Homo sapiens: one gene and its partner. The protein of the gene in region 2 interacts with the protein of the main gene of each other region in a pairwise test. Each region holds a gene or a part of one and is shown on either strand. Other genes may lie near its edges.

Evidence for each region.
Region 1: the proteins of MAPK13 (region 2) and FPR1 interact in binary tests that used the Homo sapiens proteins (3 or more experiments, as listed by UniProt).

What each region holds. Positions count from the first base shown.
Region 1 is NC_000019.10:51,749,047-51,753,626, forward strand, and holds the start of FPR1 (fMet-Leu-Phe receptor), read right to left. Parts: upstream 2,833-4,580; 5' UTR 2,768-2,832; intron 1,208-2,767; exon of another isoform or gene 1,157-1,207; intron 1-1,156. UniProt on the Homo sapiens protein: High affinity receptor for N-formyl-methionyl peptides (fMLP), which are powerful neutrophil chemotactic factors. Binding of fMLP to the receptor stimulates intracellular calcium mobilization and superoxide anion release.
Region 2 is NC_000006.12:36,137,013-36,140,822, reverse strand, and holds part of MAPK13 (mitogen-activated protein kinase 13), read right to left. Parts: intron 2,459-3,810; coding exon 2,379-2,458; intron 2,122-2,378; coding exon 2,043-2,121; intron 1,945-2,042; coding exon 1,768-1,944; intron 1,530-1,767; coding exon 1,450-1,529; 3' UTR 1-1,449. UniProt on the Homo sapiens protein: Serine/threonine kinase which acts as an essential component of the MAP kinase signal transduction pathway.

The DNA of each region.
Region 1 (4,580 bases), on a different chromosome or scaffold from region 2:
TCTACTAAAAATACAAAAATTAGCCAGGCATGGCGGTGGGTGCTTTTAGTCCCAGCTACTCCAGAGGCTGAGGCAGGAGAATCACTTGAACGTGGGAGGCGGAGGTTGCAGTGAGCAGAGACTGCGCCATTGCACTCCAGCCTGGGCGACAGAGCGAGACTCCGTTTCAAAAAAAAAAAAAAGATATGCAACTTCTCCACTCCAAATTCTGCTCGCTCTCTCTCTTTAAGGTCATGAAATCTCCCTTTCCTCTCTCATCGTGGGAAGCAAGGCATAGTACTTGGTTAGTTTTCCAACATAGGTCAAATGGATCCGTGAGTGATACTAAACGACGTATAATCAAGTATTATATCCAATGGATTCTGTGCTAGAAGAAGTCAGAACAACAGACTCTGTTTCCACTCTCGTCTCTGCGGTTACCTTGGCCAGATGGATGGGAGGTGCTTCTCCATCCATTGGATGGGCTCAGCACTCTTGGGGATGTAGAAGACCGTGATAGAAATAATAGTCCAAATATGTATTGGATATGACATTTCATTAGATCAGGTATGCAAAGTGCATGTCAGGTTCTTGCTGAGAGCTGGCCTTCTCTCTTTTTTTTAATTTATTTTATTTTATTTATTTATTTATTTTGAGATGGAGTCTCTCTCTATCACCCAGGCTGGAGTGCAGTGGCGTGATCTGAGCTCACTGCAACCTCCGCCTCCCAGGTTCAAGCAATTCTCCTGTCTCAGCCTCCTGAGTAGCTGGGATTTCAGGTGCACGCCGCCGTGCCTGGCTAATTTTTCTTTTTAATTGTATTTTAGTAGACATGGGGTTTCACCATGTTGCCCAGGCTGGTCTCAAACTCTTGAGCTCAGGCAGTCCACCTGCCTCAGCCTCCCAAAGTGCTAGGATTACAGGTGTGAGCCACTGCGCCCGGCCTGGTCTTCTCTTCTAATGCTTGCAGCAGCCTTCCTCAAAATTGTTACTATGAGGGTCACTGTCTTTATGGTACCCATTTTGCAGACGAGGAAAGTGCGACTTAGAGCATTTCAGTTAATTCCTTAAAGTCACCCAACAGCCCAGGCTGTCGAATTCCAGCAAAAGTCTCTTTCTGCCTCTGCCCTGCCACGCTACTGGCACAGAAGAGCTGTCTAATGCACTAGTCACTCACCACATGTGGTTTTCAAGCACTTGAATTGTGGCTAGTCCAACTGGAGACAGGCTGTAGGAGTAAAATACCCATCAGATTTCAAAGACTTAGTATGAAAAAAATATTGTGACCATCTCATTAATAGTTTTTATATTGACTACATGTTAAAATGATAATAATTTGGCTATTTAAGTTTAGGTTAGATATTTTATTAAAATTAAGTTCGCATGTTTCTCTTCACCTTTTTAAAGTGCCTACTTGACACTTTGAAATTACATATGTGTCTCACATTTCTAATGAACTTTGATACTCTACAATCTCAGAAACAACTCAGAGATGTCTCCCTCCCCTACCACCCATCCAACCACCAAAATACCCTGAGGACTCTTTGTCCTCAAGAATCTCTAAGGCAACCAGTTCAGAAGATTGTTGCAATGAATGATGAGGATTCTGCAATAATGAGCTGGAACATACCAGAGAGGAAAACCTGTGCAATTTTGTCCAATTATGGTTCAAGGGAAAAATCCTGTGATTTGCAATGAACACAGGCCTTGGTGGCTGCCATCGATGAAGGACTTTATGCTTGATAATCATTGTACCACATCCTCAACTTTCTTGCCTCTGATCTCAACAAACTCAGCATTGATTATACATCATCATCCCTGTGTGACGGAAGAGGAAACTAGGAGCTTGATGAGAAATGACAGCCAATGTCTGCAGATTCATGAGAGGGCAGGGCTGTATTCCGCTACTGGGTCCTATGCACCATGCAGAACCAGTGTCTTCACGTGGAGACTCATCACTGATCCGAAAGGTGACTGCTTCTGTATTACACTCATTTCCCCATGACCCATCATAAAGTCGTTAGGGCTCTTTTGCTTTCTCCTGAAAGCTTCAAACCAAACATCCTTTCCCATCCCGACTCAAGCCCTCAAGCTGATGCCCTTGCCTCTTGCTCCACCAGATTCTCCTCCTGCTGGCTCCTGCATCACTGTTCTCTGCCCTCATCTCTGTAACCAGAAAACAAGTGTTTCCATCCAAGAATTACCCTCTACTGGTCCCATAAAACTCATTCCCCCATTTACTCAAGAACTTCCCTCCTTCACTTATCCCTTCTCTCTCCTGCAGCCTCATAGTGTCTCTATATTCCATCATTCCCATCAGGACCCCAATAAAGTCTAGAGCCTATTTGTTTATTTATTTATTTACTTATTTATTTGAGATGGAGTCTCACTCTGTCACCTAGGCTGGAGTACAGTGGTGCAATCTGAGCTCACTGCAACCTCCACCTCCCAGATTCAAGCAATTCTCCTGCCTCAGCCTCCCAAGTAGCTTGAATTACAGACGCCCACCACCACGCCTGGCTAATTTTTGTATTTTTAATAGAAGTGAGGTTTCAACATGTTGGCCAGGCTGGTCTCGAACTCCTGACCTCAAGTTATCCACCTGCCTTGGCCTCCCAAAGTGCTGGGATTACAAGCATGAGTCACCGTGCCCGGCCTGTTTAGAACCTCTTTAAAAAAATTATTCTTCAACTCCACATCCTTCTTCAAACAAAGAGTCTATTGTGTTCACCAGTGTATTAAGTGTGTCTATGTCAAGCTACCCAGTCCCCCAGAATATGTTTCTTACCTGGACTGTTCACCAGCTGTGGTCTTGCTCTGGGTAGTTCTAGGTCTGGGTCTCCTGGGGAGAGTGACTCAGGCTCTAATGATTGCAGCAAAACATACACCAAGGAACAGGAGGAGGGGTAAAGGAACTAAAACCAGCTGGGTAGCAGGAAATAGGAAGTCTGAGCTTCTTCTGATTTTTGATGGCCCCAAGAATACACCAATATACTGTCTGCTTTAATGGCATTAGGACAGTGGGCTGGGCCTGTTTAGAAACTCATGTACCTGACTGTATTTCTCAGCCTCAGTCTCTGTGGGATGCAGAGGTTCAGTGCTCTCAACAACAAGGGCCAAGAAATCCAAGTGTCCGGGCCCCTGCTCCCTCCAAGGGTCAAGGTAAAGAAAGCAGCAAGCACTGTGGTGAGAAGAATCAGAGGGAGGCAATGAAAGGAAGAGAAGAAGTCATGAGGGATGGAGACCAGAAACACAGAGAGAGGTAAGGGAGTGGGGGAAGTTGAGACAGTTGGCAGGACAGCGCGTCCACACCCATGCACACCACCAAGATTAACCCCATAATCCTCTGATCTTGTGGAAGCTCATTTGTAGTCTTCTAGCCCAAAGAAATAACCGTTTTTCTGAAATGTTAAGCATCCTTCCAAGGGTATCAGAGTGATATGGAGAAATATGGTAAGACAGTTACAGAATCAGAGATAACGACACTGATTCTAAAAGCATTATTACCAAGGCATTGTTGCATTAAGACTGTTTTTTCTTTTCTTTTAGAGACAGTATCCTGCTACGTTGCCCAGGCATGTCTCAGACCCCTGGGTTTAGTGATCCTCCTGCCTCAGCCTCCCCAAATGCTGGGATTACAGGCATGAGCCGGGCTGTTTTTAATTCTAAGTAATTTATAATTTACAATTACACCTAACAATGGCTTCAACAAGGGGTGTCCAATCTTTTGCCTTCCCTGGGCCACACTGGAAGAAGAAGAATTGTCTTGGGCCACACATAAAATACACTAACACTAACGATACCTGATGAGCTAAAAAAAAAAAAAAAAAAAAAAATCCCCCAAAAATCTGATAATGTTTTAAGAAAGTTTATGAATTTGTGTTGGGCTGCATTCAAAGCCATCTTAGGCCATGGGCTGGACAAGCTTAGCTTAGAACCAAGACGAAATTTATGGTTTACTTTACAAGAATTTTGCAAGAGGGTAATACTAGGTTAGGTTATATCTGGAAAATATCATCAAGAACTACATTCATTTTAATCTTTTCTCTTTTTTATCCCTAATATGGTGACTTTTTTTCCTGGGGATTGCCACTTCATGGCTCCAAGAAAGCTACCACAGCTCCTGACTTCACATTACAGCAGGGGTCCCCAACCTCCAGGCCATAGACCAATACACAGACCGATACCGGTCTGTGGCCTGTTAGGAAGTGGGCTGCACAGCAGGTGACTGGCAGGTGAGCAAGAGAAGCTTCATCTGTATTTATAGCCACTCCCCATTGCTGGCATTACTGCCTGAGCTCTGCCTCCTGTCAGATTAGTGGCGGCATTAGATTCTCATAACAGTGTGAACCCTACTGTGAACTGTGCATGCCAGGGATCTGGGTTGTGTGCTCCTTATGAGAATCTAATGCCTGATGATCTGTCACTGTCTCCCATCACTCCCAGATGGGACTGTCTAGTTGCGGGAAAGCAAGCTCAGGGCTCCCACGGATTCTACATCATTGTGAGTTGTATAATTATTTCATTGTGTATTACAATGTAATAATAATAATAGAAATAAAGTCTACAATAAATGCAATGTGCTTAAATCATCCTGAAAC
Region 2 (3,810 bases):
GCCCGGGTGACAGAGCCAGACCCTGTCTCAAACAAACAAACAAAAAAAAGCTTTCTGAGCCTCAGTTTTAACACCTGTAAGATGAGTGTGAAACTCCATCTGAAGCCCCCCAGTCTCCTCCTATAGGTTTTTGATTTAGGCCTCCCAACAAATCAAGTATGACTGAAATCCACTAAATGTCTCGAACTATGGTCTGATATCCATCAGAATCACTAGGCTTGGGTCAGGGCGAGAGGTCCTCATTCAAATGCACATTCTAAGGTCTCAACTGCAGACCTGCTGAGTCACAAGCCCTGGGGTGGGGCCCAGGAATCTGCATTTTAACAAGTCCCCTGGTGCACAAGGAAATTTGAGACCCACTGTGCCCGACAGCTTGTGCACATGGAAATTTGTTCTGCCAAAGTTTCTCAGATAAAAACAGAGAGGTTCTAGCCACTGTCAGGTCAAAGCTCTGGAGAGCTGTGCCATCTCCCAAAGGGAGCAGAACGGTTTGCCATCAAGCCAGGCAAGAGCCCATTTCTGCCTGTGCAGCTCGCAGTCTCCGAGCCTGCTGTTGTTTCATATCTTGATTGCTTATCACTCACCCAAAATAACCTGAATGCAATCGCACCAGCTGCAGCTCTCTCTGCAACTCCCTTAATTTAGCAGCCAAACACATTGGGTTCCTTCACAGAGCACAAGGCCTCAGCACGGGGCCCAGGAAGGGGCCCCTCCCTCCCAGCTGTCTGTAGTGAGTTGAATCATTTCCCCCTGGAATTCATGTCCACCTGGAACCTGAGAATGTGACTTTATTTGGAACTAGAGTATTTGCAGGTTTAATTAATAAGGATCAAGATAAGATCACACAGGATTAGGGTGGGCCCTAAATCCAATGACTGTTGTTAAAAGAGGAGAGAACAGAAGAGACAGAGACTGGAGTGATGCAGCAATAAGCTGGGGAATGCCACGGACTGCCCACTGCCGCCACAAGCTAAAAAGAGCCAAGGAAGGATTCTTCCCCAGAGCCTTCAAAGGGACCACAGCCCTGCCAACACCTCCATCCCAGATTTCCAGCCTCCAGAACTGTAAGGGAATCAAGTTCTGCTGTTTCAATCCACCAGGTTTGTGGTAATTCGTTAGAGCATCCCTAGGAAACCAACACAGCATCACTGCCATAGGCCCCCGGCCTGGCTCAGCGCCCACTCAGCCCCACTCTGGCGGGAAGGAAAGGGCCCCACCTGCAGGCGATTCTCCAGATGGGCAGTTTAACGTGGCCTGTTAGGATCAGAGCTAGTTTCTCCCAACCGACATCTTTGAATTCTGCATCTACTAGGCCCATTTCCCACATAAGGAGAAGGACCCTTCTGTCCTCTGCTTGAAAGGCTGTATTCCAAGAAGGGCTGAGTTTGGTAGTGACAAATACTGGTCCTTGGGCAGTGTCTGGCCGGCGGTGCCATGCAAGATGAGTCCCTACAGCTTCATGCCACTCCGGCGCCGTGAGTCCTTCCGGGCAATGGGGCTGAAGTTCACAATCTCCTTGTAGATGTGCTCTGAGAAAGGCAGCATGGTTTAAGGTGCGTAAAGAGGTGCTGTGGCGAGAAAGTCCACCCCCCTTCAGAGACAGCATGGAGAGCGAAGTCAGCTCAAGGAGAAAGAAGCACCCAGGAGACAATGCCCACCAAGAAGGAGGTGGCAGGTAGGGCTGGCAGAGGCCAGGCACAAAGATGGAGGAAGCAAGGAAGAGAGGCTGCAGGCGGAGGCGAGGAAGCCCGAGGCCCCAGCTCTTACGCTTCCATTCATCCACTGTGAGTTTCTCGTGTTCTAAGGAATCATCAAACGGCTGCTGGGCCTCCGTCTCTTCCTCAGGGTCCCGGAAGGGTTCAAAGAAGGGATGGGTGAGGGCCTGCGCGGCCGTCAGGCGCTTGTCCACGTCTAGCTCCAGCATCTTCTCCAGCAGGTCCGCAGCTGCAGGGGCAGAGCCAAGAGCCTCACACCAGGGGCTGGGAGAGCCCGCCCTCTGGGATACGCTGAGAGGCCCCTGGGGAGCGGGCTCTGAGACTCACCCTGGGGGCTGGCCCGTGGGAACAGCTGAGTGAAATCCTTCCTGGGGGTCTGTGGCAGGGACTGGATGTAGGATTTGGCCTGGAAGACAGAAAAGCATCAAACCCCTTAGGGCTCTGGCCTCAGCGTGTAGAGCAGGGATTTCAGAAAAGCCTCAGAGCAGGGCTGAAAGTTCAGGTCAGGGTCCACGGTGAGATTAAGACAAGAGTGCCTGCCAGGGTAGGAGGATGCTGTGGGAAGGTGCTGGTGAGCCTTCTTCCACAAAGGCCTGCAGCCCACTGGGCCCACGTCAGGCAAGCACACAGCCCAGGCCAGCCTAGGTCCCATTTACCACCCACCGCTTTGTCGTTCAGCTTCTGCACAAACTCCGTGCCAGGCACCCCGGTCACTTTCAGGATCTGGGTCAGCTGGTCCAGGTCTTGGTGGCAGGTTAAGGCTTAGCCTTGCTCTCCTGGTGGGTCTGAGACTGCCCTTCCTGCGACCCCACCATCACTTCACCCGGGCACCATGGCAACTGATCATCCAGGCTCCAGCCCTGCCTAACCACCTCCTGCTCTCAGGAGGAGGCTTATTCTTCAGGGCTCAGGGCTCTGGAGAGCTTTCCAACGTGCCAGGCTGAGGGGGGTCCCTACCCAACAAATGGATGTGGACTTCTCAGCCTTCATCCCAGTGACTCTTTTCTGTTTCCTCGTCTTCTCACCAAAGGCCTGCCCTGCACACACAGGTACTCAGTTAATGTGTGCCGTGCCAAAATGTATTTTCCACGTAGTGGTAGAATTTTTCATCATTTTGCTTATCTACATTTTTTTTTTTTTTTTTTTTTTGAGACAGGGTCTCACTCTGTCACTCAGGCTGGAGTGCAGTGGCACAGTCTTGGCTCACTGCAACCTCCACCTCCTGGGTTCAAGCGATTTTCCTGCCTCAGCCTCCCGAGTAGCTGGGATTACAGGCGTGAACCACACCCGGCTAATTTTTGTATTTTTTGGTAGAGATGGGGTTTGACCACGTTGGCCAGGCTGGTCTCGAACTCCTAATCTCAGGTGATCCGCCTGCCATGGCCTCCCAAAGTGCTGGGATTATAGGTGTGAGCCACCATGCCCACCCAACATTTTGTTTTTTTTTTTTTTTTTTTTGAGTTAGGGTCTCCCTCTGTCACCCAGGCTGGAGTACAGTGGCACAATCATAGCTCACTGCAGCCTCAACCTCCCAGGCTCAACCCTCCCACCTCAGCCTCTCAAGTAGCTGGGATTTTTCTTTTTCTTTTTTTTGAGACAGAGTCTTGCTCTGTCACCCAGGCTGGAGTGCAGTGGCGCGATCTCAGCTCACTGCAAGCTCCACCTCCTGGGTTCACGCCATTCTCCTGCCTCAGCCTCCTGAGTAGCTGGGACTACAGGCGCCTGCCACCACGCCTGGCTAATTTTTTGTATTTTTAGTAGATACGGGGTTTCCCCTTGTTAGCCAGGATGGTCTCGATCTCCTGACCTCATGATCTGCCCGCCTCAGCCTCCCAGAGTGCTGGGATTACAGACATGAGCCACTGCGCCAGGCCCATGTCTGGCTAATTTAAAAAACTTTTTTAGAGATGGGGTCTCCCTATGTTGCCACATCTGGTCTCAAACTCCTGGGCTCAAAGGATCCTTCCACCTCAGCCTCCCAAAGTGCTGGGATTACAGGCATGAACCACTGCGTCCAGCCTTATCTGCATTTACAAATTATTCTACAGGGAGTATGTATCACTCTCACATTAAGAAAAAAAAGACAGTTATTTAA